Linked DNA regions of Homo sapiens: region 2 is linked to region 1. The links come from fine-mapping of genetic effects on gene expression. A gene starts in region 1. The other region holds a variant in brackets. All regions are shown on one strand. Distances are between the middles of the regions.

What was found. PIP is the estimated chance that this variant, and not a neighbour inherited with it, causes the effect. A credible set is the group of variants that fine-mapping cannot tell apart.
Region 2: its variant is the best candidate, but not a certain one, in a credible set for the expression of TMEM260 in unexposed skin (GTEx, PIP 0.74).

The regions. Positions count from the first base shown.
Region 1 is chr14:56,571,903-56,588,489 of GRCh38, forward strand. TMEM260 (transmembrane protein 260) reads left to right here and starts at 7,896. Exons shown (of 16, transcript NM_017799.4): 1 at 7,896-8,172; 2 at 13,099-13,130; 3 at 13,859-14,010. The coding sequence starts at 8,013. RefSeq lists a silencer at 7,964-8,183.
Region 2 is chr14:56,613,993-56,630,579 of GRCh38, forward strand. TMEM260 (transmembrane protein 260) reads left to right here. Exons shown (of 16, transcript NM_017799.4): 8 at 1,952-2,035; 9 at 3,191-3,305; 10 at 4,602-4,771; 11 at 7,539-7,710; 12 at 11,390-11,538. Among named protein-coding and RNA genes, the nearest start is that of TMEM260, 42 kb to the left of the region's middle. The variant C/A (reference allele first, on the strand shown) is at 6,436.

The sequences.
Region 1 (16,587 bases):
TGTTTAGAAAAAAATGGGTTTACTAAAATTGTGAAGATTACTGACAAATATCAGACTATAAAACTGAGTGGGTTTTTTTTGTTTTTGTTTTTGTTTTTTTTGGCCAAAGATCTAGAACAGAATTCATAAAGTTTATGTCTGAAAAGTAAATTGGTTTTAGGAGAGAGTTTAGTACTCGATTACATTAGATTACCACAAGGAATTTTGAAAGAAAATTTACTTTCCTTGAGTAGAAAACACTTCCACATAATCACTTATATTAAATGGCACTAAAAAGATGCAGGAAAATTCGTGAGTTATTTCATGTCAACTCAGGGTAATATTCTAGTTAGTATTCATTACAGGCCAGGCGTAGTGGCTCATGTCTGTAATCCCAGCCCTTTGGGAGGCCAAGGCGAGTGGATTGCTTGAGCTCAGGAGTTCGAGACTAGCCTGGGCAACATGGCGAAATCCTGTCTCTACAAAAAAATACAAAATTTAGCTCGGTGTGGTGGCACGTGTCTGTAGTCCCAGCTACTGGGGAGGCTGAGGTGGGAGGATCACTTGAGCCTGGGGAGGCCGAGGTTGCAGTGAGCCATGATCACGCCACCACATTCCAACCTGGGTGCCAGAGCAAGATGGTGTCTGAAAAAAAAAAAAAGAAAGAAAGAAAAGTATTCATTACAATACTGTCCATTAGATAATTCCAGAATCTTCCTTCCTAGCTATTTTGAAAAATATGTGATATGTAGATAGAAACGTGCATAAAGCATTTTTAAATGGTTTAAAGAATAAAGAATACACCCATGTGACCACCACTCAAATCAAGAACAGAAATATTGACAGTACGTCAAAGCCCATATGTACCCCTCTCCGATCATAGTTCCCACTTACTTACCTGCAGAGGTACCATTAACCCAACACCTGCAATCTTGATTTTATTTTCTTTATAGTTTTAAACCCTATGGAGATATATATAGAGAGATATATGATACAGTATACAATTTTTCAATGAATACCTATTGTTTAGATATACATTGTGCATATATAGCATATATAATATTATATATACACAATATATATCTAAACAATATAGTTTAGTTTCACTATGGCTCACACCTGTAATCCCAGCACTTTGGGAGGCCAAGGCAGGTGGATCACCTGAGGTCAGGAGTTCGAGATCAGCCTGGCCAACATGGTGAAACCCTGTCTGTACTAAAAATACAAAAAATTAGCCGGGTATTGTGGCACACGCCTGTAATCCCAGCTACTTGGGAGGCTGAGGCAGGAGAATCACTTAAACCCAGGAGATGGAGGTTGCAGTGAGCCTAGACCATGCCATTGCACTCCAGTCTGGGGAACAAGAGTGAAACTCCATCTCAAAAATAAATAAACAGACAAATAAATAAGTAAATAAATAACTACAATCATTCCACATGTGTTCTATCATAACTTGTTCCTTTTGCCCAATATTTTGTTTGTGAGAATCACCCAGATTGTTCCATGGTAGCTAGCTATAGTTTGTTCATTCTCTTTGTTGTATACTATTTATTGTATGAATATGAGAGGATTTATTTCTCTATTCTGCCACTGATAGATGTTTGAGGCTGTTCCTGTATGGGGGCTATTATGAACAACACTGCTATGGACATGTTGTACGTGTCTCCTGGCTTCTCTGGGTGTAAACCTGGAGTGGAATTACTGAGTGGCAGACTCTAAACACCTTTGACTCTACTAGAAATGCCTGTTTTCCAAGTGGTTGGAAGTGATTTCCAAGTGGTTATACTCCTGGTAACATTTCTATTGCTCCAAACACTTGCCAACATCATATATAGTTAGACTTCAATTTTTGCAAACCTAGTAGGTGTGTAGTATCTCATTGTGGTTTTCATTTGTATTTCTCTGATTACTAGTAAAGTTAAAGATGTATATGAATATTTACTTACAATTAATTCTAGGTCAAATTATATGAATATCTTTATAAATTTTTGATACACATAGATACATTGACCTCCAAAATATTATACCAAATTCCCTTATCACCAATCCCCCATATCTATTAAATACCTTTGACAATTGGAAAGGTGGAAATGGCATTTGTTTATTTTTATTTCAAATTCCTTTGGTTACTAATACATTTATATGTTTAAAATTACTATTCTGAGGCATTTGTCAGGGATATTTGTATCTCTTGCATTTTCCTATTGTAGATGGATTACCGGATGGTATTCTAGGCATCCAATTTCTAGTCTAAAGTTGCTAACCTTAAATTTCACTGATATTAGAAATATTAAGACATTGACTTTATATCAAGTGGGATTTGGGGGAATTAGACATCTAAATTGTAATTTGTAGGTGAATTTCAGTGCATTAATGTCTGTGAAGCTACTCTGAATGCTCAGAATAAAACAAAGAGGAGTGACTTTTGCTTTCAGAAAGATGAAATAGGTATTTTTTTTGAATTCTTCTTGCTAAGTACAACTAAACACACTGGACATTATATATAAAACAAAGATAATAAGACTTCAAAATGTGAAGAAAAAAAGGCAGTTGAGGCAGGAGCTCTGAAATCTGAAGAACAACAGAGTGGTGAGGTCCCTGGACTTCTTTTTCCCCCTTATATCACAGATTGGTTGCTAAAGAAGCTAGCAACCCAGAGATGCCAATGGGCCCAGACAAAAAAAAAAAAAAAAAAAGCCCCAACAAAAAGCCTCGTCCCTCTAGCTAAAAGACCAAGAAAGGGGCAAGACAGATACATTTAGAAAACAATCACTCTACTGTAGCCAAAACCAAAGAATAAACCATGAGGAAGGCTGAGTGGGCAGCCTAGACTTCTACCCTCTCCAGGTGCCTCCACATGCCACCAGGGTCATGTCAAAGAAGGCAAAGGAAGAAGCCAGAACTTTCATTCTGGTTGGGTGGTAATGAGACCCCTCTTCTCCATGGTGGCAGTGGAGACCACGTGGGGATCTTTGACTTCCACCCCTGCCCAAAAAGAATGAGGTCCCCCTTTCCCTCCCTTCTGGGGTAGTATCAGAGGCAGCCTAGTGAGAGTCAGGACTTTCACCACTGTCCAAGGAAAAGGAGGCCATCTCCATACCCCCATAACCATGTGGTGCTAGTGGAAACCACAAGTGGAATAGTGACGAGGACTCCTTTACCTTGCAGCAGGGAGGCAGCAGTAGAGGCCCGGCAGGTAGGTGGAATGTCCACCTCTGCTCAGCAATAATGAGGAGCCATCTCCTTGGTTTCAACAGAAGCTAGATGCTGGCCATAAATCCCAGGAAGACTCCCAGAGCCAAATTTAGGGTACCATAGGGCCATGGATCTATGTATTTACTTTCCGTCAATCTGATGTTCTATATCTAATTGAGTGTTCCCTGGCCTCTGTGATGTTCTTCGAATGTGTCAACTTGGCTTGGCTACATTCCTCAGTTTTTCAATCAAACACGAATCTTGGTGTTGCTGTGATGGTATTTTGTAGATATGACTAAAGTTCATAATTAGTTGACTTTTTTTTTTTCTCCAAGCAGAGTCTTGCTCTGTCACCCAGGCTGGAGTGCAGTGGCATGATCTTGGCTTACTGCAGCCTCTGCCTCCCAGTTTCAAGCGATTCTCGTGCCTCAGCCTTTTGGGTAGCGGGAATTACAGGTAAACACCACCACACCTGGCTTTTTTTTTTTTTTTTTTTTTTTTTGTATTTTTAGTATTGATGGGGTTTTGCCATGTTGGCCAGGCTGGTCTCGAACTCCTGGCCTCAAGTGATTCTCCCACCTTAGCCTCCCAAAGTGCTGAGTTTACAGCCATGAGCCACCATGCCCAGCCTCATTTGTCTTCAAAACCGTGAGATTATCATAGTTAATCTGGTAGGCCTGATTCAATCAGTGGAAAGGCCTTAAGAGCAGGGATATGGGTCCCCTGATGAAGAAAAACTTCCAGCTGTGGACAACAGCTTTCTGCCATGCCCAGGAGTTCCAGTCTTCCCTTCCTGATGGCATGTGCTACGGGCTTCAGAGTTACTTAGCCAGCCCTCAAAATTACATTATACAATTCCTTGCAATAAATTGTATCATACATATCTCCTACTAGTTCTGTTTCTCTGGATGAATCCCAAATTATTTACATATTTTTCTGCTTTATGGTTTGTATTATAGTGGCTAACTCTAAGCCATCATAGAATGATGTAGAGCACAAACAATAAATCAATACTCGTTATATGTCTTATTGGTCTGTCTCAGGATCAAGTCCAACGATCACATGTTTACACATCATGTGTAAAGAGAGACATCATGAGGTCTCTCTCTTTATCTCTAACATTTTCTATCTTCAACCCTTCTCTTCTGTCCTCCTCAGTCCCATCCTCTCCAATAACCTGTACATCTTTACTTCATCACTATGTCTCTCCAAATACTCCCTTGAGTTACAAACAAAACAAGACATTCAAAAATCTTCATTTGACACTTCGATCCCTGTGAATTTTCATGCTATTTCTCTCTTTCCCTTCACTGCCAAACTTTTTGCAAATGTATTTTATTTTCATGTCTTCCATTTGCTCACTTCTTAGCCCACTAGTACCTTGTTTCTGTAGATACTACTCTACTGAAGCTGACCTCTTGAACTTTCAAGGTTCAAATACCTCCAGGTCACCAAATCCAACCATGCAGAGCCTGCTAGTTGCCCCTCAGTATCCATTCTCCCCTTCTTCCTTTGTAATAGAATTCTAGGCAAACTGTCCAGCTGAAAAGTCTATTTCGCAGCATCCTTTGCCCCTAGGAGTGACCTGTTATTCAATTTTGGCCAATTAGATATAGCAAAATTGTGGAATAGCATTTAAAAAAATAGTGCTTTTTTAAAAAAGCTGGAGCAGGCCTTTCTCTTCCCATCCTTTCTTTTTCTTCCTCAAGAACAGATGTAATGTCTGGAGCATTAGCAGCCACCTTGGATCAGTAGATGACCTTGAGAATGTGAGCTGAGTGGGATGGTGCAGAAAGATATGAGGACTTCAGCTGTGTCCCTAGTGGAATCAGGGAGTTGCCAAGCCAGTGGTAGACTGACTTCCTATAGACTTCTGACTTCTTTTATATAAGAGAATGATTGTTTTAATGTTTAAGACACTGTAGCAGGATCTGTCACTAGTAGCTAAATGCAATCCCTAACGGATATGCCAGTGATCTCTGATTGTTCATGTATTCATTTATTACATAAATATTTGTTTAGCACCAATTTTGTGCCAGGCATCATTTTAAATATGGTGGAAATTAGACAAAGTCCATCAGGTTTGACAGGCTATTTAGACATAGAAATGGAGAGGTCGGGGGCAGTTGGGTTTTTTAAAATAATCGGTCGCTAAAAAAGAGAAGCAGAGGAGGTCTAATTTTGAGAAATATTGCCCCATAGTTGCCCTTTAAAGCTTCAATATGATCATCTCGGGAAAGAAGACAGAAAGAGAGAAAAGTCTAGAACAGCCCAGGAATACTTCAGCATTTGGGGGACCGACAGAAGCAGAGCCAGGGCAGGGAGGCCATTGATAAAAGGAAAACCAAAGAGTGTGCTATCAATGAAGGCCAGAAAAGAAAATACTTCCGGGGAGGAAGGAATAGTCAGATGCTTACTGAGAGGTAGAGTCAGACATAAACAGAGAACTGGAAGTTCTTAATCTTCAAAGGAAAACAACCATGAAGCTAATGAAGCTTAGGCCTCACAGTTCCTCTCTAGCCCAGGTGTCTTCCAATATCTTGTGCCTAATTCTGTATCTGCAGTTTTATATCAGTTTACTTACATATAATTCTCCAAGTTTTATACACTTGAGCTTCACAAAATCTAGACGTGCCTCTCTTCATTGTCCTTTACCTCTCTGTAACATCCTGACCACATGTACTTCATCGACTTTTCTTCTTTAGCTTCTGGTGATGCCTCATTCTCTTACACTGTTCTCTCCCCTTCTCCAGCCATTCCCTAAATGAGAATATGGGCTGACATTAGACCTCAACCTTGTTCTCTCTACACTATCCCCTTATCAAGTTAGTCATTTATATCATCCTTACACGAGCAACTCCTAAATTTGTACTTCCAGCACTGATCTCTACCTCCCAAACATGGACAAAGAATTATTCCCCTCCAAAATAAAAAAATTTTAAATAAAACTCATGAGCAAAAGTGAAATGCATAAAAAGGGAAAGAAGTATATGCTTGACCCAGTCAAGGTTACTCATTGGCATGTTCTTTCAGCAAAGAAATAGAAGACAGCCTATCTTAACTATCTATTGCTGATAACTAACAAATTAGCCTGCATTTATCAACTTAAAACAACATTTATTATCTCGCGGTTTCTATAGGACAGCAGTCTGGATGAGGCTTAGTTAGGTCCTCTGCTTCAGGGTCATCCACAGGCTGCAATCCAAGTCTTGACAGGAGTTATAGTTATCTCAAGGCTTATGTGGGGGAAGGATCCACTTCCTAGCTCCCTCACATGGTGTTGCCTAGATTCAGTTCCTCTAAGGTTGTTGGACTGAAGGTCTCAGTTTCTTGCCAGCTGTTGGCTAGAGGCGGCTCTCAGTTTCTTCCCATGTGGACCTTTCCACAGGGCAGCCTACACCATGGTAGGTGGCTTCATCAGAGAGAACAAGTGAGAGGACAAGAGGGAGTGCCAGCAAGATGAAAGTTAGTCTTTCATAACCTAATCTTGAAAGTGACATCCATCACTTTTGCCTTATTGTATTGATAGAAGCCAATCCTTAGGTTAAGCTCACACATAAGGCGAGCAGCTTATACAGGAAGTGAGTGAGGAGGCAGGGTTATCTGGGAATCCATTTTAGAAGCACTCTACCACACAGCCCCTCTCCTCCAGGAACTCACAGTACAGCTGAGAAATTACCTGGAAAAGGCTGGAAATTGTATAAGTACCTGGAAAAGACTAAGGTGTGCTGGCCCCATGACCGTCAAGGTAGGTATATGTTACTCTATAGTTTAGTCACTGTGTCTCTATCAAATTGCGCGTAACACGTTTGAGATTGTCACTGGTTTTCAGTGTGTCTTTGAGATACATTTTATGCGGGTTGCTCTCCTCCCCGCCCACTCCAGGATAATTGCTTTAATAATAAAACATAAGCTTAAAAAGCTTAACTGCGCTGTTATGTAGTTGTCCTTATTAACGGCTCCGATTCTTTTTTTTTGCGTTACAGCTCATTGTAAAATATGGTGATTCAATTTCATTTTCCACTTTGCTGTGTTGAAAGCTCCAGCAAAACACTCCTCTTCATTAAACTAGGAGACACCTTTATCATGGTTTGAGTTATCTGCATGAATACAGGAACTCAAATTTCCCGACTCATCTACAGAGTTTTCATTATGCTATGGAATGAAAAAAAAAAAAAAAGACGCACTAGCATATTCTAATCTCTCTAAAAATTACTCAGTGATTTAATAAGTAGCACACAGACTTATTGTAATTAGTCATAGTAACGTAGTAAATCGTAATAAATACATAATTGTGATTAATGTATTTATTGGCTTACTTTGCACATACGGTAAATACACCACCCTTTTTTTTTTTTTAGCACAGGTAGGGGCTCCTGGCTGATCGTGGCCCTTTTGTGCAGTTCCACCCCGCACCGTAGGGGGCAGGAGCAGCCCTTCCTCGCTCGCGGTTTTCGACGCTGCTTTGGTCTCTGTCAGACCCAACCAAGTCAGTATAAAAGGGGGGAATAGCCATGGAGAAGGTAGGCCTGTGGCCGGGCTTGCTTTTTAAAGGGAATGCTCTCCTGGTGATTAGGAACCTTAAATCACATTATAAGTAGGTGAACGCCAATGCGTGGTGCACTGCGGGAAAACTCGCAGGGCCTGGCTCAAGGGAGGCCTGGCATTTTCTCCTCCCCGCGCTCAGGCGGAGAAAGGTGCGGTCCAACCCGCGGAGGCTCGACCCGGAAGCCGCCGTGGCCGCCGCACAAGCTGCGCTCGTCTCTCGGCTGGGGAGCTCCGTGTCGCACCGGGTTCTTGGGCTGGCCGTGTCCTTCTCCCTCGGTCGCCACTGGCCCATGAGTCCCCATGGCGACGGCAGGGGCCAGGCCCAGGGGCGGGCAGTCCGAGTGGGGCTGCGGCGCTCCGGGGGCATCCGCGGCGGCGTGGCGGTGTTCGCCGCCGTGGCCGCAGTGTTCACCTTCACCCTGCCCCCTTCGGTACCGGGGGGAGACTCCGGTAAAGTACTCGCAGGGTTGCCCCTTCTGTCCCTCTCCCCTGGTCCCAGAACGGGCAGGGTCTGCGTCTGGCCCCTGCTCTTGGCATTCGGTCTGGTCAGCTCTGGGCCTCCATCCACCCCCCTGTGCACAGCGCACTATTGTGTGTTCCAGAGCCCACTTCTGTTTCCATTCCTGTCGTTGTGGTTTCTTTAGTTCTCAGGTTTTCGAGATGGGGCGTATTGTTGGTTTCGCCTGGTGGGGCTTATCGACCTCTCCACTTCCCCAGATCTTTTATCCTGGTCCTGAGTATTTACTTTCAGTCTTTTTTAGTCCACAGATATTATTCACGGTGTCCTTATTATGTTTCAAACAAAAGAACAGTAGTGGCGAACAGATAATTGCTAGTGTTCCAGTGCGGTTAGACAATACACAAGTTAATGAATAAACAGCATATTCACTGGTGATAAGTTATGGAGACAGTAGGAGGGAAATATGATTGAGAGTGGGGGTAAGTAGTGGGTCCTTCCGAATGACTATTCAGGAAAGACCTCTGAAGAGGTGGTGTTTTAGTTGAAACCTGAATATTGAGAAGGAACTAGCCATGCAGAATATTTGCAGGAGAACTCTTAAAAAGGTGGAAGCCAGGTGCGGCTGTTTCTATGAAAAAGAAAAGCATGACTCATTGGCCCTTAAATCACACTAATTGTTTTGTATTTGATGCAAGAAACAAGATCCATGTTTTGTTTTTGGATTCAATAATGCCATATCATGGCCAGTAATTTTGTCAGAATAGTGCTGTAATTTCAGGTGGTGAACCTATGGACTGAAGAAGCAGTTTTTGCTGCATGACTAGTGATCCCCAAATTGAGCAGCTTAAACAGCAAACGTTTATCGTCTCCCGTTTTTGTAAATCAGGAGTCTGGGTGCCGTTTAAGCTAGATGCTCGTACTCAGAAAAAGGTTGCTGTCATGGTGTGCGATGGGGCTGCGGTCTTCTCAAGGCTCAATTTGGGGAGAAACGCAATCTAGTTCTTTGCTATGTGGGTCTCCATAAGTTAACTGACTTCTGTCAAGAAAAAGATGAAGGACACCTCTCTGTCTGACAGCTCTGTCATTTTGTAACCTAATACTGTAAGTGATATACCACTTCTGCATTTTATTCCTGGAACTTCGTCAGTAAACCCAACCCATATTCAAGGGGGAAGGATTACACAGGTGAGAATATCAGGACTTGGGGATTAGTGGGGATCATATTTAGGGCTGCCTACCACGTTGAAGATCTTTGATGTTACATCTTCAAATTGTTACCTTTCTTCTTTCAGGTCCTGTTGCACAAGTAGGGATAGTGTTTCATTCGTGTAGTAGGGAGTTTCTGTACAGTGTTACCAAGATTGGTATTTCATAATGGAAGTAACTTTATAGTTGTGAGTTTTGGTGCTGGAGAGCATTATTCAGAGGTTAGGTAGTTCTGTTACTTGTAAAAAAATAAAAAGATTGACAGCTACTTATGGTTGGTTGAGTGTGAAGGATGGGAGTGAGATTTATAATAACTGACGTTTGTTGGGCACTTACTATGTGCCAGGCACTGTTCCAAGTGCTTTATATGGGTTGTTGTTTTAACCCTCCCAGCTACCCTTAAAAGTAGGTGCAATTATTATTTTCCTTTTATAAATGGGAAAACTAAGGCTAAGCTATGCCCAAAGTCACACAAAGTAGAGAAATCAGGAAAAGAAAAGTATATTGACTTCAGAATATGCCCCCTTAACCTCTACTTTTCGTCAAAACATTTCATGAAATTCTTTTCTAAATCCACCATCACATATGTAGTGATGTTTAAAATTTATTTAAAATCATGATTATTGCCTTGCCTTTATTAATACTGTATTTTATTTTTTCCTAAAAGAATAAAGTTGTGTATTCACCTTGAGTTACCAAACTTTAGGTGCTTTAATTTTGTTTGGTTTGATGTTAAATAGTGGTTGCTTCTAATATTTTTATGTTCATTTTTGGGAATGATAAACTGTTTTCCAAGTATATGCCAATATGGAAAATTTGCTTTATCGTATATTTGATAATTGTGTTTACATGTTGAATGCACTATTCTTGAATGTTTATGAATTATATTTTCATCAATAAACAGAACACATCTCAAAACCAGTATAAAGCATGTATTCTTCTTCCTGATAAGTCTTACATTTTACTCCATAGATTCATCACATTGTGTCGTCTTGCCAAAATTATTTTTTGTACCACTTGACACACACAGTTCATTTATGGGCAGGGTGCTTGTGGTGCTTTTCGGGGAGGGGGTAGGAATCTGGCCTTCACTAAATTAGTTTGTACGTGAGTTTATTTCAAAGATACTGTCTTTAACAGATGTGATGTGTGACAGTCTAGTCTAATTAATATTGAGAAGTATGATATAAAGGGAGCTGGTTTTTGTAAAGGTTAAGCATCTGCTGACAACTCTGGGCTTGCCATTAGTTTGTATTGCAGACAACAAAGCCGTGGTTCTCAGACAGGAACGTACTTCAGAATTACCTGGGAAACTTGAGCCCCCAGTGCAAGTGGGTCTTAGTAGATTATGGAATTTGGAGGTGTGGGCAAGGAATCTTCATTTTTAAAAAGCAGGTTAATTCTGATGCAGGTAGACACAACTGAGGAACCTTTCATGTAAAGGGTTGGGAGAAAGCCAAGACTCGGGAAGCTCGAGGTTTTTTTACTATTCCCTTCCTCTTTATCACAATCAATTTAAGAGTAGTATTTCCCTTTAGATCTTTATCAAGGTTACATTTAGAGACGTTGAATGGGGACATCTTTTCTATTTCGATTTTAGTTTAACATTTGATAAGAATTGATGAAAGTTTGTCACATTCCAGATTTATCTTTATAGCAGCAGAAGTCTGGCAAATAATAACAGCACACTGACTTTTCCATGGTAAAAAGAAGTTAGAGAAAAACAGCCTATTTTTCTTAATGTTAAATGTAATTCTGAATACATTTTAAATGGAGGAGAATGAATAGTGACCTTTGAAATTTTGAATTTATGGTGGCTTCGTTACAAAAAGATTACAGGAACAAAAAAATCGAAAATAGTTTGGAGCTAAAGACTTAAGAGCTAATCCATTATGGAGTAAACTATAAAATCATATCCTTTACAGTAGTTAACAAAGGGAACAGTTGTTTGAGACATTGTGAGACCATAAACTATTTAAAAAGAAGCATTTAGGATATAAAATGTGCTGGTTTCTCAGGTGCTCTTGAATATCTCTTAACAAATGTCCTTAAGTAATTGACTTAATCTGTCTTCAGGTGCCCTTATAAGGCTTCCATGATGCAGTCACCTAAGACTGGGGTGTCTTAGTAGCAAGGATGACAATGTGATGTGTATTTTTGTTAACCTCTGTGTGTATGGCTTGAATTGATGCTTTGTGTGTGGCCAGAGGGGAGAGGTGGTGGTATCCTGGCACGATCGTGAAATGGATAGGATAATGTTTTTAAACTTAGTGGGAGAGAGAAATGAAAACCAACCAGAATATAAGGCCATCTAAAGTGCTAAATAGACTCAAGCAGGTTCTATGGAGGAGGAAGAAGTGATTAATTCTGATGGGGAGGCTGGGGAAGCAGGTGTCTAAGGAAAGGTTACCAAGAAGGTGGCAATTGAACTTGGCCTTGAAGGATTTAGGGGGAGAATGCTAGGGAAAATATTCCAGGGTGAGAAAATGAGTGAGAAGAGGTGCAAAAGAGGACCACTCCAGAGAAACAGTGGGTAATAAGATTTGACTGGAGGGAACATAGGTTTCATGGATATAAGCCTAGAAAAGGGACCTTGAAACCATAGAAAGCTTGAACGTCATGCTGAGGAATCTGAACTTCGTTCAGTAAGCAGAGAGCAGCCATTGAGAAATTTTAGACTAGGGATGCAATCCAGCCTTTTGTGTGTGTGTGTGTGTGTGTGTGTGTGTGTGTGTGTATGTGTTTAGGGGCATGGGGGAAGGCAGGTGTTGATTATAAGTGATTTCAGTATGAAGATGAATTGAAGTAGGATTGGTCAAGTCTGTTGCCATAGTCCAGGCCAGAGAGAGTAAAGGTCTAAATTGTAGCTGGGACAGAAATTAAATGCAGAGTATTGCTATCTATGAAAGGATAGGAAGTGGACAGTAGTACATTTCCTAATAGGTACTAGTAACTTTCATGAGTCATTCATCAATATTGATTCCTTACATTGTACGGTACTACAATGTACAGGGATGAGTCAGAAATAGTCCCTGTGCTCTGAATACGTAAAAGGTTAACAAATAGGCATCAAATTACTGCATCATAATTTTAGAAATAGTCACTAATGGTGAGGAACTATAAAGGACTATGTAAAGAATATTATTTAATGGTTTGAAAAAATGTCTTACAGTGAACCTTACCGAAATAACGTGGAGTTAATAAACACTTGGAAATCATTTAAAGATATCCAGTGCAATTAATGTGGAGAAGATACCCAAATGCCAGTTTTAGGGTAGTATGGGACATTTTATGGAGTGTCCAAACCTCAGATGTCTGCGCATTTTACCTTACTATAAGGTTGTATCTTTATAGACTTTCGTGCTAATTTCTTGAGGGATAATAAAGCATATTACACTAATGCTCCAACAGTATTTGTATATTTGCAAGTGGATACAACTTTCAAGAGGGAAAATAAGCATTTTTTAAAGACCAGAATGTACCTATATTTCCACTGACCACTTCTTAAAGACTATCAAAGATAGTTTGTTCAATAAGACCTAAAGGAGAAAATATTCTTAGACTATTTCATGCTGTTAAATCTCTACAGATTTACAGTTTTATCCAGTCAAATTAATGCAAAACCCCAATGCAAGCATTTGGATTTTGAAAACTTTGGAGGAGTGTCATTCTCTAATAGTAATTATTGGTTTTACATTATTTTTTCACAGGGGAACTGATCACAGCCGCACATGAGCTTGGAGTAAGTATTAGTTTTATTGTTTAATCAATGCTCTCATTAACAGTTTTAGGAATTAAGAAAGTTTAATTAAGCATGGAGTAAAGTAGATTAATTTATTTTCAAACCCCCGTTTTTAGTAACTTATAAGTACAGTACGTGACAATTTACTTTAAGTTTTAAATCCAATTAAACTAAATTATAAAGCAAAGCCTTTACTATATATACAGTAGCTGCCTTATTATCACCCCAAATTTTGTATAAGCTGTGGGGAATAAAATAAATCGGGTTAACAGTTTTAATAAGTTTATTATTTAATAAACTTTATTATGGTGCATGATCCCTTCAGGCAAGACCTTACGACTGTCAGCATGGTGGTAATCCGATAGCAGTGTGGTCTTTCAACTTTCTAACCAATACGATATTTCAGAACCTGCTTTTTTTCAATAGCCTTTTAAATGACCCTAATGTACTGTGAACCCAGAGAACAAACTGCTTAAGAACTGACAATGAAATATGTCACCCTTTCTCTGGGTGACGCACCATGTGATAGACGCTGCCAAATCCACTAAAGAAAATATTTATTTGTATTGCCTCAAGAGGATTACAATAGAAAACCACTATTCAAACATTTAGTCATTGGTGCCTAATCTTTATAGCTGCTTGAGAAAAGGGCTACTTTTCAATTAAGGCCTGTGGGACTCTTCCTTTCCTAGATGAAAACCTTCTAACTGTTGCTAATTTTTCCGTAGGTTGCCCATCCTCCTGGCTATCCTTTGTTCACGCTGGTGGCTAAACTGGCAATTACACTGTTTCCTTTTGGTTCAATTGCCTACCGCGTCAATCTTCTCTGTGGCTTATTTGGAGCAGTAGCTGCATCATTACTTTTTTTCACCGTTTTCAGGTAAAGTAGTTGATTAGTTAAAATTAATTTTGAGCAGTTGGAGATGTAGATTTCTTATGGCTCAAGTACATACATTAAAAAAATCTTTTGTTGCTTGGTTTCCCTAACACATGTGATTTCACTTTCTTAATTTATAATACTTTCATATGCATTTGACCCCTCAAATGATTACACAGTTGGTTTTGTTTCCTACAGTGGAGTGAAGGTGTCACCAGTTCATTATCACAGTTCTCTGATTAGGCAGAACTAATGAGGTTTGTCATTTTGTGAAGATGCAGATGGGCCAGTTTAATTCAACAATATGAGGTTCATCTTTTGGTAAATGGTAAATATCATTTAATTATTCACAGTATTGCTGACGAGCAGCTGCCTATCAGGTCCAGGGCTAATACCTAATTATATTGTATTCTAAATATGAACATGTTGTATACTTTCTGAAATAAGGATATTAACTAAGGAAATCAATTTGGGATGTGGTTTTAGTAAGGTTTCACTCTGCTCCGTTATGGCTGTAGTAAAGGTAGGCAAATTAGATCCCAAGTAATTCATTGATAGAAGACTTTCTTAGGTTGGAAGTCTACCCTGCTTTTAAAACATTGGTCATTAGTTTAGAATGCTGGTAACCCATTGTCTTTGATGTTCTGTCTCCTTCATTCTTAACTCAGTGCATCCTATACCTAAGAGGATTATAGTGAAAAATACAAATTACACTTTCTGCAAAAGGAAAAACCAAATTAAAACACTTCTTCTAAAAACTTTTGCATGTCTTACTATAAAACAAATGATTTCTGTAGGTAAATATAATTTGAATAGGTACAATTTCAAATGTCTTTTTTGGAGACCAATATTTTTATTTGTGTCAAAGTCATAATACTGCCCTTTAGCCAAATTCTAAATTCTCTTTTAATTATTTATAGAAAGATAAGAGTTAGTATAATTATAACTCTGAAGTTTACTTTTGATCTGTATGTGAAAAAACTTTCAGATTCAAGTATTGTAACTGTTGATCTTTTCCCAAATTGTTATATTATTAAATTTGTTATTTTAGTCTTTATGAAATATTTAAAATAATGTTTCTGCTTAGATTCATTAGTACTATTAATATTTTTCTTTTTCTCAATGGTTAGGATAATTTTTATTAGAATTGTTCCTTCTGAGTCTTTTGTAATTAATAATCTGTCAGTATTTCCACTGAGAGAAAAAGTGTTTTTTGTTTTTAAATATCTAGGTTGAATGGGAACTTCCTTGTTCTGTATTGAATGAGTATATTATTAATTTTCACAAGATACTTTAGAACAAAAACATTTAAAGAAGACTAATATATTCATTTTGATAGTCTGTATTTTAGATCATTTATGTAACATAGACATATATTTAAATGTTATATAGCTATAAATAGCTCTTTGTGCAAGTAAAGGGATTCATTTTCTAAAACTTTTCCATGTTTTTCAACATTATTAATTGTTGATACCATTCCATATGAGAACTACTGTAAGAATCGTAAATAAAAGTCTTAAAAATTTACAGAATCTGGATAGCTCTGGACAGTACTTTTCTTTAAAAATAGCTTTTATTAATTATTATGATTAATTATAATGGTTTAGATTAGCACACTAGCCTGTAACGCTTTTCTTTTAATATGCATGGCTAATGATATATTTTATACTTGCTGACATGTGCTTTAAATTGAATCTCTTAATATGACTAAATTAGGTATTTGAGTAGTTTTAATAATATAGTATGTGCTTTGGAAAAGTTGCTTTCTTTCAGAAAAGGGATCTAACAATATTATCTCTTACATAATTTTAATATGAAAATACTTCATTATTTTGAATACAAATAATTGACAAGGTACACGTCCTTTGGGAATAACCTAGTTCAAGTGGCAAATCTGTTTTGTCAAACAATAGACACCCTTCAAAAAGGAGAAGCCATCTCTATGGTAATAGGACTAACAGTAGCCTATTGATTGAGTGGAAGAAGACATTATACAATGTCAGCTGGCTTGTTACAATTTCATTTGTTGTATGACCTGAACTTAACCTTTAAAACCTTTCTTCTGTGAATATAAACCCAACAGCAGGACACAGTTTTTGTACAACCATTACAGTGATGGCTTTTTCCTGTTCCAGTGTACAATAAATGTGTTTCTTTGCAGCTTGACTCCCTTATCAGAATTTGTTTAGGAGACGTTTCACTACTTTATTCATTTACAAACCAAATCATCATTCCATTTTGTTGTTGAATATTGAAGGGTTTTGATCCAGGAAACAGTTTTATTCTTTCTTTCCCCCATCACTTAAGAGACCATTACTGTACACGTAGGATTAGTGCTGACTGGTGTGCAGTAAATTAATTCTTTTAACAGGTTTAGGTTTTTTTCAGGTAATTGTTCACATAGCATTCACTATATTTAGCTCTTGGGGTGGACATAAAGACCTTCTGTACCTTTTAAACAAAGATTTTATTTCAAAAGCAAATTTATGTTTAAATGTGTTGATGTAAAAAGCTCCATTTTTTTCAGTAAACATGACTTAGATTGAAAGACCAATTTATTCGTTGTTTCCAATTACTATG
Region 2 (16,587 bases), 42 kb after region 1:
CCGCCTCCCGGGTTCAAGTGATCCTTCCACCTCAGCCTCCTGAGTAGCTGGGATTACAGGTGTGTGCTACCACGCCCAGCTGATTTTTGTATTTTTAGTAGAGACAGGGTCTCACCATGTTGGCCAGGCTGGTCTCAAACTCTTGACCTCAGGTGATCCACCTGCCTCGGCCTCCCAAAGTGCTGGGATTACCAGAGTGAGCTAACACAACCGGCCTACAAAACATTAAAAAAAAAAAAAAAAAAGGCATGGTGGCATGCACCTGTAGTTGCAGCTACTCAGGAGGCTGAGGTGAGAGGATCGCTTGAGCCCAGGAGGTCGAGGCTGCAGTGAGCCACCTTCATGCCACTCCAGCCTAGGCAACAGAGTGAGACTCTGTCTCAAAAAATAAAAAAATAAAGATAAAGACAGTCAAATGTCATATCAATGTCTCTGAGCTTTCATTTTATTCTGCTTTGCTCCATGCAGAAGGACTCACTGCCTGCTCTTTTCTATCTACCTTCCAGAGATTGTTACAGCATTAAGGATAACTGGTATATTTTGTCTTAGCAAACCCTACATGAACTCCAAAGAACTCTTGAGAGTAATCCTAGACCATATGTCTAACTTTTATTAGTTGCACATAAAAGTCATCTATTGGGACCCTTAAAGGCCTCCTTTACATTAAAATAATAGCAGGCTGTATACCCAGAAAAAAGACTTGACAAAAGTGATGACCACTCACACCCACACTTCTGTGTTCTGTGTGGACCAAGTCATCATGTAGAATGAAGGCATAATCTTAGCACTCCCTGAATGAGAATGTCTAGTCTTTAATAGTTTCAGGTGGGCAGGAACATTGAAAAAGGCAACTCATAATTAACTTATGAGAAAATCCTTCAAAATGATAGAAGCTAATCATCTACCCTTTTCCAGTCAAGCAAATTAAATTTTTTCCCCATGCATATCTCTAAATTGCAATCCTGTACAAGGAAATTATTGAATCTAACCTTAGGCAGTGACCATCTTTTAGCGCTTACACTTAAGCAATAGATCTCCAAGAATAATTTTGAGACTGACTTCATTCCTTTTGAAGAATGGTTTGAAATGGGCCTCATGCTGGAATCAATTTTTTCAAGTGTATTTGAAAATGAGTAAGGATATCTTCTCATAGTAGATGAGTCTTCATTAGTAAAATACACATTGTATGGTTTCTATAATTATGGTATCACATTTTCTCCAGTAAAATTGCCGGTAGGGAGAAGAAAGTTCTTTGAGATGATGTATAGAGTCATTTCTTTTTTAACAATTGGAGACAGCTAGAGCAGAAGCTATTTTAGAACTCAAATTTTAACACCTGAAAATGCATATGAGTTAATGGAAGAATTTAGTTTATTTGTAGGAAAAAAACATAATACATTTCTCTGAGATTGCTTAAATGTTTTTTGAACCAAAACAAATAATATAGAAAACAAGGAAACCAATTAAGGAAAAAAATAACCCACAAAAGAATGGCTGGGAATTATCTCTCATGGCCTTTATTTTCTTCATATTAGATCTCCAGAAATCTATTTGAATTAATTTTGTTATCATTTGCTAAATCACTGGAGGCCATGTCTACACTGCCAAGAGAAAAAAGTTCAAAAACTCATTTCAAACAGCTTCCTACCAAACCAGTCGGGGATATTCTATACAGTATACCAATATAAAAAATACAGAAGAATTATTTGTTCTGATCCTATTCCAAATTATATAAGTTGATAACCAAATGTTACCATTGGAAAACGTCTTGGAACTATTTAAGTCTTTCTATTGCACTTTTTCTTCCAACTTTAAAAGACAAAATTTTAAAATCTGACCCCAGCCCTTGTGATTGTTCAGTATATAATCAATGGTATCTTACAAGGACTATTTTATTTGGAATCAATCAAATTTGTTTCCTGCCAACAATAAGTTAGATTGTTTTTTGCAGTTCTCAAGTAACAAATATGAGGACCGAACTCTCATTCAACATCCAAGCCCTTGCAGTTTGTGCAAATATATGTTTAGCAACAAAGTAAGTAATACAATTCCTTTTTCTGTTATTTTTCTATGTTCATGAATTGAATTAATGTTTTCAGTATGTCGCTGTAGGACATTGCCAGTATTATTTTATACTCCAAATAAATGACTCTCCTAGCTGTCTATTAAGATAAACGTGTATTGCTTTCTTCTATTCTGATTCTAAATAAATCAATGATTTCAAGAAATTGAGCATTATATTACATCTAAGTAGACAGTCATTTGATGTCCTAAACTTCAGGTTTGATCCCTTAACTCTGCTATAACCGATTATTATTGCTGATTTTAAAAAGAAGCAATAATTTAAATTCCTCTGATGATAAAAGTGATCCGATGACAAAAGAAACCCTGAAAAATGTAGCACTGTAAATCTCCATTAATTTATTCATTTATGATCTAGTCTGTTGAATGCATTTGTATGTAAATGTATATTTGTACATTTATCTATAGTTTTGTTTACTTGACACAAACATTGTGAACATTTTCTCATACTATAAAAATACTTAAAATCATTTAAATGTCTATATAATAGAACATTCTATGACCACAGGAGAATTAATTTAACTGTTCTTCTATTGAGAGGTCTTTAGATTGCTTCCACTTTTTCCACTATTATAAGTAATAACAAAGCATTTTTATGGATTAATCTTTATTTACATTTCTGGTTATTGCTTAAAGATTTATGCCTGCATGATAAATAACTGAGTCAATGATTATTAATATTTTTAAGGCTTCCGATATAGATATTATCAAATTAAATTTTCTGAAGGATTATACTAACATATATTGTCATACCACTGCACACCAACATTGAGAGTTATCGTTCTTAAATCTTTATTATTTCAAGCATGAAAATGTTTCTATTTTGCCTGTATTTGATCACTTCTGAAATTTAACAAAATCAGTAGTTTGCATTTCTTCTGTGAATGTTAGCTTTATATCCTTTACTGCGTAGTCCCAAGTTGTAGTTCAAATTTATTATTATATTTTGGTTATTTGTTTCAACTCAGATTTTAAAAACCGAAATCTCTCTTTGCTCCTAGTTAAAAATGGAAAGTTTTTATAGATCTAATAGTTTAAAGTCCTGTGATATTATATTTGACATTCATGTATCTAAATATTTTAGACATATTTTTATTATTTTTTGTAGGGACAGACAGAATCCATCATTAGTATGGCTTTTTACTGGAATGTTTTGCATTTATTCATTGTTCTTTGCTTGGAGAGCAAATTTAGATATTTCAAAACCACTTTTCATGGGTGTGGTAAGTTTTACTTAGATATATCCTTTGACCAGAAAGTTTGTGAAGAATGTGCAAATTTGCATTTCATAAATCTTGTAGAAGGGCAAATTACTTGAGGAATAGTTAAAATTTTATATACATTTTTATAAATCAAAGTTGAATTATTGAGTCAATACAGCTAAGGCCTCTTTTTAGGATAAAAAGAATGCAGTGTTTAACACAGTTGTTAAATAGAAAAGTAAATGTAAAGTAGATTTAAGTCATTGTATGTGTGTGTGCTTGCAAATATAGGTACAACTGCATTTCTCCTGGAATTTTTTTAACAGCAAAAGAAATATGAATTGTAATTGAGGGCACTTAACAACATATTTCCTTATTTCTTACCTCCCCAGTCCCAGGCCTAGGCAAAAGAGCAACCGTATTTCTGTTTTCTTTGGCAGCAGTCTCTGAGATTAGAGTATTTCTTCTACTTACAATAGATTCTCTGTAAATGTCAATAGCACTTTTTTGACAGCTGAAACAAAGTCTGCGTATGTGTGTGTTCAGGAAGCCTAATAAATAATACCCTACTTGATCACCTGAGTTCTGAATCAATTGAGAAACAAGGTAATACAGTACAACGGGTGGGAGAATCACTTTTATTACTGATAATACTGAGATTGGAAAATGCAGCTTATATCTGTAGCCAAGGGGGCTTCCTCTTCCAGCATCCCAGAATAGACAGATTTACCCACTAGTCATAGGCAGTGCTGTGCAGGTCAGGCCTCTTCCCTGTCTCCCCCACCCCACTGGTGCCACAGAGATAGACTCTAGCCCTGGACAAGTGCTTCCTGTGGGTAGCTCACTTCCAGGAGAAAGTGAGATGAAAAGGGAGGGCGCTGCAGGCCCAGTCCCAGCTCCCAAACTCCCCAGTCAGATCAGTCCCTACATCCTATAGGAGGAAATACGTGAGGGGTCAGAGACAGGCCAGGACAGTGGAGCTTCTCCATGTGGAAGGAAACATCAGGAGTAAAGCAAAAGCATTTCTCTAACTCCTTCAGCCTGTATATTACTGGAGTTCAAGACTAAGGCCACAGTATTGAAATGAATGTGTGGATCTGAAAAGGGAGATGCACCTGTCAAACTGGGAAGGAAGAATGTTTGAAAATAGAAAAATAAAATGACCTGGGCTTGGATTGGGGAAATCAGTTAACAAAACCTGAATGACAACAGGCACACACAACTAGGTGCATGCAGCATATTTAAAAAATATATGAGGAGCTGATTGATAGCATTAAATAGTCAACTGGACCCACTGGTTGCATGTCTCTTTCACAGGTGGAACGATTCTGGATGCAGAGCAATGCAGTAGTGGCCGTCCTCGCTGGCATTGGTTTGGCTGCAGTTGTGTCTGAGACTAACCGAGTGCTGAATAGCAATGGGCTTCAGTGTCTGGAATGGCTTTCTGCAACTCTTTTTGTAGTTTACCAAATATATTCTAATTACAGGTAATACATGGTTATTTTTATGAAAAGTAGCTGTCAAGCCAGAGATACCTGAATATTTAGATTCTAACACTTTATTTCATTGTTAACTTCTGGTTTTCAAGACTCAAAGTGAGACAGCTTGGTTGAATGCAGTAGTTCTTTAACTTTTAGGGTCGTTAAACCTAAAAGTTAAAGCATGGGCGATGAATGGTTTCAGGCCATTGCAAACAAGGGTTTAGGTGGTGCGTGTAGACAATTTGTATCTTTTTCTCTTAAGAACCCAAGAGATACTTTTAGAATCCCTAGTATAGGTAAAATTCCATGACCTAAAATACCACTTAGATGGAGAGTAAAATGATTTAGAGTTTTTTGTATACCCTAAAATAATTCACTTTATGCTTCCCTTTATGTCCAGTTTACTCTGTAGTAGTAAATACTAATTTTTTTGAGACAAGGTCTTATTCTGTCCCCTAGGCTGGAGTACAGTGGCATGATCGTAGCTTACTACAGCCGTGAAATTCTGGGCTCAAGCAGTCCTCTGCCTCAGCCTCCTCAGTAGCTAGGACTATGGACACATGCCACCATTAGCATGCCTTTTTTCTTTTTTTTTTGTAGAGACAAGGTCTCACTATGTTGCCTAGGCTGGTCCTGAACTCCTGGTCTCAAGCAAGCCTCCCTCTTCAGCCTCCCAAAGTGCTGGAATTAACAGGTGTGAACCACTATACCAGCCTTAATTATTTTTAAATTAAGTTCTAAAGTTTCTTAACTCATATATTATTAGTATTACATGTATTTTTCAAAAAATCTGTTTAATAACCATTACAATAAAAATCTCAGTCTGACATAAAAGACGTCTAAGTCTTAGACTATAGTTCGTTTATTTCCAGCAATATCAAGTACACATTATGGAAATGGAAGAGAGTCCCTTGGAATTTTGCTATAGTGAGATTGGACTGGTATTATTTTAAAGGATTACATTTTCTCTTTTAACTTAACTTTAAAAACCAATGTTCTTACCATTCAACCCTGCAATCTTATTACTGGGTATATACCTAAAGGAATATAAATCATTCTAACATAAAGACACATGCATGCGAATGTTTATTACAGCGCTATTCACAATAACAAAGACATGGAATCAACCTAAATGCCCATCAGTGGCAGATTGGAAAAAGAAAATGTGGTCCATATACACCATGGAACACTAGGCAGCCATAAAAAGAATGAGATCATGTCCTTTTTAGGAACATGGATGGAACTGGTGGCCATTATTCTTAGCAAATTAACAGAGGAACAGAAAACCTAATACTGCATCTTCTCACTTATAAGTGGGAGCTAAACGATGAGAACTCATGGATACAGTGAGGGAGAACAACAGACACTGGGGCCTACTTGAGAGTGGAGGCTGGGAGGAGGGAGAGGATCAGAAAAAAATAACTATTGTGTGCCAGGCTTAATACCTGGGTGACGAAATAATCTGTGCAACAAACCCTGTGACGTGAATTTACCTTTATAACAACAAACCCACACGTGTACCCTGAACATAAAATAAAAGTTAAAAAAACCCACAACATTGTTCTTTATAATACTGGGGTAGAGCTGGTGTTAGGAAGGCCACCAGGAGGCCTTGAGAGAAGGGGCTGCGTGTCCTGGACACAACATCATCGCTAGCTCAAGAAGGTGCA[C/A]CAAGCCCACAGTGTGTTTCCCAACCTTTTCTTATCCCAGTCATCTCCTGGCTCAGGCCATTAGGGCAGTCCAGGTTCGACACCAGACATATTTGCACAGGCTAGGTGTTTTTATCTTGTTTTGATTTTTTTTATTTGTCCCAGGGGAATGGAATACATAGCACTTTTGCTAGGTGGCAAAATGTGCCTCATCACTCTGCAACATAGGGAATCAGGTAGGAAACAGTAATTTTTACATCAATTACAAAGGCAGGGATAATATTCTGTTCCTAGAGGTGTTCATTTGTTTTGTGATACCCCAGATATTCTCAGCTCCATCAAATGTAATGGACTTGGTAATAACAGAAAGGACATTGCTTGTCTCATTTTTTGATACTAATTACTGTTTTGTCATCTTTTTCTTTTTTCATAGAATGCTGTCAGAATTCATGCCAGTTTTTCTTTGAAGTTAGAAAGTTAACTTCATTCTTGAAAAGAATGAAGTTATTGGCAATAGCAAATAATGCCTGGAGAGAAGTAAACAACTCAGGAAACTCGTCCTCCCCTTGCTTCTCATTGGTCTCATTCCCTAGCAATTTCTTGATCTCCAAAGGCAGAGAGGGACACAGGAGGCCTGTGATTCAGGGGAGAAGTGGAAAGGATCAACCTCTGCATGCAAGAAAATCATACAAATGCCATACAAATTCAAGTCAGAAATGGGCAGATTTCCTTTTGCATTTCTGAAAGTTCCTTTGAGTAAATGGAATGAACATAAAATTGCCTTAAACTCCAAGTGGAATCAGAAATCTTACTTTCTAAAAATAAAATTGGATTGCACTTAGGGGGAAAAAAGGACCTATTCTTGTGTACTGATTCCCTTTTTCTGGAAATGATTATAAACTCCAGAAGTAAGCAGTAGACTGATTTTTTTTCAATTGCACAATTAGCTGCTGCTTATCAGGTGATAGTATTCTCTCTTCAAATATACATATTATTTTAGAATGTATTGAAACACTAAATGTTGATTGTATGATGGGAAAAGAATGGCATAGAAAATAAGCCTAGTCTTATTAAAACTGTAGCAAAGTGTTGCTATTTTAATTTTTTTGGATCCTTTTATTTAGTGTTTGTGACCAAAGGACCAACTATGTGATTGATAAGTTCGCAAAGAACCTTCTCACCTCTATGCCTCATGATGCAATTATCTTACTCAGAGGAGATTTGCCAGGAAATTCTCTCCGTTACATGCATTACTGTGAGGGGTTGAGGCCTGACATTTCATTAGTGGATCAGGAAGTAAGTATATGAAAAATATACTTAGAATATAGCGATGATTTAAAAACATATGTTTTGGAAAAAACATCTTTTTTAAAATGGTGGACGGGTACAGTTTTCATGATCACTGTTAGGTAGAATATATATGACATTCTACATGTTAGGTAGAATATATATGGGCATACTTTTTTTTATTTTAACTAATAGTGTAAGTCACACTAGTTGCTTCTTTCTCATTTAAAAACATTTAAACTGAACGTTTTAAGAATTAATGTGTTTCATGTTAGATTCATAATGTTTTAGGTCTCTAGTTCATGTGACAAACCATAAAAGTGTTTGTTGTATGGTAAATCTATTTTTAAATTGTTATTTTACATTCAGGCCGGGCGCAGTGGCTCACGCCTGTAATCCCAGCACTTTGGGAGGCTGAGGCTGGCGGATCACGAGGTCAGGAGATCGAGACCATCCTGGCTAACATGGTGAAACCCCGTCTCTACTAAAAATACAAAAAATTAGCCGGGTGTGGTGGCACGCGCCTGTAGTCCCAGCTACTCGGGAGGCTGAGGCAGGAGAATGGTGTGAACCTGGGAGACAGAGTTTGCAGTGAGCCGAGATCGTGTCACTGCACTCCAGCCTGGGCAACAGGGCGAGACTCCGTCTCAAAAAAAAAAAAAAAAAAAAAAATTGTTATTTTATATTCAGCTAACTCAACCATTCAAATTTACCTTGCCCATTGGTCCAGGGATTAAAATAAATTATATTGAATATGAAATAAATCATACTGTAGGTAAGTAAACATTTCACTCAAAATAGAAATTATTAACCATAATTATGCTATAGAATTTTTATATAAACTTTCTTAATGCTGTGACAAAAATACATTAAGAGAGGACTTGTGAAAATTTTGAGGGCTATGAAAACTTTTTTTTTCATTGAAGAACTATTTAAACTAAGATTTATTATTTAAGCCATAGATACATAAAAGGGAAGAAACCTGTCTCTGGTGTTTTTAGAGCAGTCATTAGGAAAAGAGAAATTCTTAATCTTAAAAGAATAATATGATGAATTCAATTGAACAAATTATTAGGCATAGTACTTAATGCACTTTGTTGAATTAATGAATAATTATAATTTTTGGAGAAAACTTTATAAACAGATTTGTAAATATACAATTTTACATTTTTATAAGCAGTTGCATTTATATCATGGATGCCGATTGATTAATTTGAACTTCAGTCTAGATTCTGACAAAAGCTATGTTATTTGTTAATAACATGGTTCCACACTATGATTTTAAACACTGTTTAGAATGTCAGCTCCTGTAGTTGAGAAGCATGGATTAGAAAGTGAATTAGACCTAAACTCAAGTCCTCATTCTGTCACTTCCTGGATATGTGACATGGGGCTAATGATTTTTCCTCTCAGAGCTTCTGTTCCCTTATTTATGAAATGTAAGTCATCATTATGTAAGTTAGGGTGCATTTGAATGCAAGAAACAGAATACCTGACTTAAATGACTGAGTTTTTAGCCTCACATGAGACGCAGTCTGGAGATAGGTGATGTTAGGATTGATAATATGAGCAGTTCAGGGACGTCAGTTTCTGAGGCAGTTTTTCTGCCATTCTCTTGACTTTTCCCTCCCAGTCACAGGATGCATGCCCAGTTCCAAACATCACAACCTAAAACAAAGCACAGTGCTTCTTCTGGGGTATCTCCCTCTCTCTATTTATTGGAAATAACATGTGCCCCAGAAGCCCCCCAGCAGACCTCCACTCAGGCCCCACTGACCAATACTGAGTCATATACTCACACCTAAACTGCTTATTAGCAAAGGAGAATGACTAGACTGAGAACATTGCAGCCTGAGCTACCTGATCAAAATGAAGATTGCATTAGTGAAAAAGAAGAAGGTATTCACTGTTGAGTGGGCAATCAACAGTGTCTGATACAGTTATTCTCACATAGCAAGGTTATTTTGAGAACCAAATGAGGAACAGTAAAGTCCATAGCACACAGTGGGTATGTAATTAATATTAATATCCTCCAGAACCAGAACTATTGGGTAATAAAGCCTAATTCAGTAAGTATTTTTTGAGTATTTACAGTTTAGACTTAGATTAAAATTAATTTGTCATTTGCTGGGTAATGTCTTACATAAGACAAGTAAAACATAAGCACAATTTCTCAAATGATGATATCCGAACATAACAAAGCTTTGGTGGTGTTAATGGGAGTCTCTTCTTTAAAAAGAGGGAATGAATACATATCAAAGTATAGAGTTAAGTATGTGTTAAGTATAGAATTAAGTAAAATGATTTTTTCTAATATAAGTAAATTATTTAAATCAAAAGAATGTGTAAACTTGTAAGGATATGTAATTAATATAGGGCTACTAATAAATTCAGATAATTTGAAATGCCAAAAGAGTTTTTAACTTTGAGGCCTAGATTATTACATGATTGAGCTTCTCCAGGGCAGGGATTATATCTTATTCATTATAGATGAGCATACTTGATTTTTTTAATGAATAAAATAATGGCTATTTTGTCTAGGTTGTCTAGTCTGGCCATCAAAGGCATTTCAATTTCAGCAAACATGATTTGAGAACTGGCCAGGTGTGGTGGCTCACGTCTGTAATCCCAGAACTTTGGGAGGCCAAGGCGGGTGGAGCACTTGAGGCCAGGAGTTCGACACCAGCCTGGCCAACATGGTGAAACCCCGTGTCTATCAAAAATACAAAAATTATTCTGGTGTAGTGTCATGTGCCTGCAATCTCAGCTACTTGGGAGGCTTAGGTAGGAGAATGAACCCAGATGGCGGAGCTTGCAGTGGGCTGAGATCATGCCACTGTACTCCAGCCTGGGTGACAGAGTGAGACTGTCTCAAAATAATAATAATAAATTTGAGAACCGTTCTATGCCAGGCAGTGTGCTAGGTGCAGATACACAGAGATGAAAAAATACAGTGCCTTTTTTCTAGGAGCTCACAGTCTGGTGAGGAACAGGCTCTCATAGAGGTGAGTACAAAGTACTAGAGGATCATGCCATTCTGGCTATGGAGACAGAGGAGGGCATCAGAGGAAGTGATATTTACAGTGGTTCTGAAAGTTGAATACACGTTCTCTAGGTCAGTGGTCCCCAACCTTTTTTACACCAGGGACCGGTTTTGTGAAGGACAGTATTTCCACAGACTGGGGGTTGGGGGTGGGGGTGGGGAATGGTCTCGGGATGAAACTGTTCCACCTGAGATCATCAGGCATTAGATTCTCTTAAGGAGCATGCAGCTTAGATCTCTCACATGTGCAGTTCACAATAGGTTCACACTCCTGTGAAAATCTAATGCTGCCACTGATCTGACAGGAGGCAGAGCACAGCAGTAATGCTGGCCCCTGCTGTGCGGCCCAGTATGGGGACCCCTGCTCTAGGTATAAGAATGGGGGAAGGTCCTTCTGGGGAGTCAAATGCGGGAGGTAAATTGGAAGAAGGTACTGATGTGACTGATGATAGTCATAATAAAATCCAAAGTTTACATCACTAAAAAAGTAATCAGTACCACATTCTCAGTTGTGCTTATATTTTTCAATTATATATATATTAGGTTGGTGCAAAAGTAATTTAGGTTTTTGCCATTACTTGATAAACTTGATTCTTTCTAAGAAATATATTAAAAGTCTGACATTATGTGTGACTTTTCTGGCAGATGATGACTTACGAGTGGTATTTACCCAAGATGGCAAAGCACTTGCCAGGTGTCAACTTTCCTGGGAACCGGTGGAATCCTGTGGAAGGAATATTACCTAGTGGAATGGTCACATTTAATCTTTATCATTTTCTTGAAGTAAATAAACAGTAAGCATTCTTTTTATATAATAGCTTTTCTAAAATCTTAAGCTTTTCTAAAATTGTTTCTGTAGCAGTTGTGCATCATCCAAAAGACCAATTTTCTCTGCCTATTTCCCTGTCACTGGTGAGATTATCTTTGTAATTAAATTGAATATCTGTGCATAAATGAGGCCAGGCAGAAATAAATGTTATTGTTTTGGATAAAGGAAAAATACAGACAGATTAGCAAGAACAGCAAATAAGATCTTAGTACAATTCACAGAAATTGGAGATGTGCCTGCCTACTTGAAATCATTGCAGGTGGATGGCAAGCAATTATAGTTCCCCTGATCAACACTATGGCCCCCCTTTTAAGTGTAAAGCAAATGTTTTCAGGAATAATCACTATATAAAAATAGCTTAAGAATTTTTATAAAGGATAAGACATTTTTATAAATAAGAAAAACACCTACAGTTTATGCTAGCTGAGATAAAATATGAGAATTGTGAATTCTATACTTGAGAACATAAAATTATTTGTAGTTAGGTCAAGAATAAATAATTCCTCCGATGGCACAGTGTTGAACATTTCTTCTGCCATGAAGTGCTTGAGATTGTCCAGAGCTTGAAGAAGAAACACTTATTTCATGATTTATTTTTTCTTATAAAGAAGACTTCAGAATGTCTTTGTAAATCCCAAAGTTAAATTATCCCTTGCTAAGAACATAATAATGTGGTATTTTGGGTGTTTAGAGCCTGAAGTTTATATGGCTCGTGGAGTAAACGACAGTAATGGTTATAAATGCGCTGTGAGAGTAACATTTAATTATTCTATTCTAGATAAAATATTAGGAACCATTAACATCCCCAAGTTGGCATTTTTGTGAATTTTCGAGAATTCAATCCCACAAGCATTTACTGAATGTCTACTATGTTACAGCTTGTATTAGGCTCCAGCAGTAGAAAGATGAATGGGACTCAGTTCCAAATCCAAATAGAACACAATCTAGTTGTATACATACATAGATGTGAATACAACTAGCCATAATTTGGTGGGATAAGTTCTATACTATCAATGCCTTGTAAAGTGTCAGACATAGTATATACTCAATAGGTGTTTACTGAATAGATAGATGATTTAACTGACAACATATGCCAAGTATTCTGGCAGCATGGATAAGGAAGCCATTAATTCTGTTTGGGGACATTCATTCAGCATTTATTTAATAAAAATTGCATGTCCAAAATGTTCCAAGAACAATATGATGGAAGTATCGTATGCTCTTTGAGGAAACTCTAAACAACACGGAAAAGTGTGAAGACGATCAGTATCATCTGTCTCCCAAGGACAGCTGCTGTTAATATTTTGATAAATATTGTTGGATTCCACTCACCTTTAACATAAATGACTTATTTTTAAAACATACACATATTCATACATACTGTATTATATATAGCTGAGATATCATTTTCTGTCCAATTTTTTTAACCTACCATTATATCATAAGCATTTCCCCATGTATATTATTGTCATTGTTGGCTAATATTCTCATAAGACGCATAATAATTTAACGAATATTCTATTTTTGGGATATTCTGTTTCTAGACTTTTGCTCTTATAATATACAATTATGATAAACATTCTGCCCCATAAAGTTTTGTTAATGTTTTTGACTAACAAAGATCACTGCATAAATATGACTTATTTAATATCAGTTTTTAAAATAGTTTTTAAATTTAAAAGTTTCATGTGCTTGTTACAGAATGAGAAATGTTTTTAAAAACTGGAAGAAAACAGGGTCCTATTCACTCAGAAACAACACATATATAAAAAATGCATATTTTTTACAAAGGTGAAAGCATAAGTGTCCTGTTTTTTATATTTACTATCATAAAACAATTTCCTTATGTTTTTACAAACTTTGTAAATACATGTACTGTAATTTAAAAATAATAAGCAAATAAAACTATTAGGAGATATTTAACATGATCTAATTTTAACTATAATAAAATTATACCTACAACAACTGCTTTTGTATATGTAGGGTTTTTTGTGGAGGGGCAGAATTTTAAATTATTAGTATAGATTCTCAGAAGTAAAATTACTAACTCAAAGGACATGCATTATTTAAAGGCATGTGATAGAGATATTTTTCCCCCCCAAAGGGATGGACCATCATCATATGAAAGTTATCTAAATGCATACCTCTGAAAGGAAGCTAGCTAATGTTTAGTGAGCACCTGTTATTTTAACATGCAGTAATATTTACTTTTCTTGTTAGGGGGTGTGGTATACAGTTCTATGAATTTTAACCCGTGTATACATTTGTGTAACCACCACAACAGTCAGGACACAGAGCAGTCCATGATTCCATAAATTTTCTTGTGCTGCTCCCGTATAGTCACACTGTCTCCTCAGGCCTAACCCTGGCAACCACTGATCTGTTCTTCATTATTATAGCTTTACCTTTTCCTGAGTGTCATATAAATAGAATCAAAGTATGTAACCTGTTGATATTGGCATATTTCACTTAGTGTAGTGCCTTTGAGAACCATCCTAGTTGCTGTGTATATCAATAGTTTATTCTTTTTGTTTCTAAGTAATATTTCATTGTATGGATGTACTGTAGTTTGTTTATCCATTTACTCATTGAAGGACAGTTGGGTTGTTTCAAGTTTGGGGCATTTATAAATAGAGCTGCTATAAACATTCATAAACAGGTTTGTGTGTGAGTATGTTTTCTGCATAGGGTTGGGATTGAGTTGTTTTCTTATTGTTGAGTTTTGAAAGTTCTGTTTATATTCTAGGTACGCAACCTCTGTCAAATATGCAGTTTGTAAATATTTTCTCGCAGTTGCTTGTCTTTTACAAGTGTCTTTTGCAGAGCAAAACTTTATTTCTTTGAAGCTCAAATTCAATTTTTTTCTATGAATTATATTTTTGGTATCATATCTAAGAACTCTTTGCCTAATGCCAGATCACAAAGATTTTCTCATGTTTTCTTCTATGAGTTCTATAGTTTTGTTTTTGTGTTTGGATGTCAAATTGTCCTTATACTCTTTGCTACAAAGATTATCCTTTCTTCATTGCATTGTATTTGTACTTTTCGCTGTCTATACAAATGAAAAAAAATCTTCTGGGGTTTTTTATTGGTTTTAACTTAATTCGTGTTTTTGTGGTTTATCTTTTTTCATCCTTTTGTTTCTAACCAACCTATATCATATTTAAAATAGGTGTTTTATAGACAGCATATATTTGAGTCTTATTTTACTATCTCAGATCTCTATTTTTAATTGCTATGTCTCCACCATTTGCATTTAATATAAATATTGATATGTTTAGATGTATGTCTACTATTATCTTTTTTTAGATTAGTTGACTTTTTGTATTTCTTTTTTTTTTTTCTTTTGAGATGGAGTCTCACTCTGTCACCCAGGCAGGAGTACAGTGGCACAATCTTGGCTCACTGCAACCTCCACCTCCCAGGTTATAGCGATTCTCCTGCCTTAGCCTCCTGAGTAGCTGGGATTACAGGCATGTGCCACCAAGCCCAGCTAATTTTTGTATTTTTAGTAGAGATGGGGTTTCACCATGTTGGCCAGGCTGGTCTTGAACTCCTGACCTCAAGTGATCCATCTGCCTTGGCCTCCCAAAGTGCTAGGATTACAGGCGTGAGCCACCACGCCTGGCTGACTTTTTGTATTTCTTTTAAAAATGTTTATTGAGATTTTTTACTATATCGCTTGGTAAAGTTTTTGTTTTTGTTGTTTTTTTTTTTTTTTGAAGCTGGTTGCTGTTGAGATTACAGCATCCATACTTAACTTTTCATGGTATACTTAGGAGTAATAATTTACCACTTCAAGCAGAATGTGATAACCTTACTGTCATATAAGTCTTTTACTTTTTGTGTTACATATTATGTCAGATAGGGTCGTTTTTATTTCAGTTGTCATACATATATTAAAGAACTTAAGAGAAAAAAATATTCTACAATATTTATCAGATACTTACCAGATCTGTTGTTCTTTCTTCAATCCTGATATTCCACATTTTCCTCTTGTATGATTTCCCTTCGTTCTGAGGATATTCCTTAAGTATTTCTTTTAAACCAAAACTATTAGCCGTGAATTCTCTTAGTTTTCCTTTATCTGAAAATGTCTTTATTTCATCTTCCTGTTTGAAGGATATTTGTGGAAATAGATTCTGGGTTGATAATACTGTTTTCCTCAGCATTTTAAAAATGTTACTTTAGGCTGGGCACAGTGGCTCATGCCTGTAATTCCAGCACTTTGGGAGGCTGAGGCAGGATTGCTTGAGCCCAGGAGTTCAAGACCAACCTTGACTACATAGGGAGACCCTGTCGCTACAAAAAAATAAAAATAAAAAATTAGCTGGACGTGGTGGTACACACCTGTGGTCCCAACTACTTGGGCAGCTGAGGTGGGAAGATTGTTTGAATGCAGGAGTTTGAGGCTGCAGTGAGCTATGATTGTGCCACTGCACTCCAGCCTAGGCAACAGAGCAAAACCCTATCTCAGAAAAAAAAAAAGAAGAAAAAAAAAAGTAAGTTAATTTTTTTGGCCTGTGTAGCTTCTAATTAGAAATCCACAGTAATTCAAATAATTGTTCCCCTAGGTGAAATCTATTGTTTTTCTCTGGCCATTTTCAAGACTTTTTATTTGTCTTTAGTTTTCAGCAGTTTGATTATGATATATTTTAGCATGGATTTCTTTGCGTTAACTTGTTTGGAGTTTTCCAAATTTCTTCAACCTGTAAGATTGTATCTTTCACAAAATTTGGGAATTTTTCATACATTATGTCTTTAAATAATTTTTCCTGTTTCACAGTCTTTCTTTTCTCCTTCTGAGACTCTGATGAAATGAATTTAGACCTTTTGGTATTGTCCCACAGATGCCTGAACTCTTTGCTTTTTTTTCAGTGTTTTTCTTTTTTTGTTTAAATTGTATCTTTTTTTTTCTATGTCTTCAAATTCCCTGACATACTGTCTTGCCAAACTTATATTAAGCCATTTGGTTCCTTTTTATATATTTTACTTTTTGTTGAGCTTCTCCATC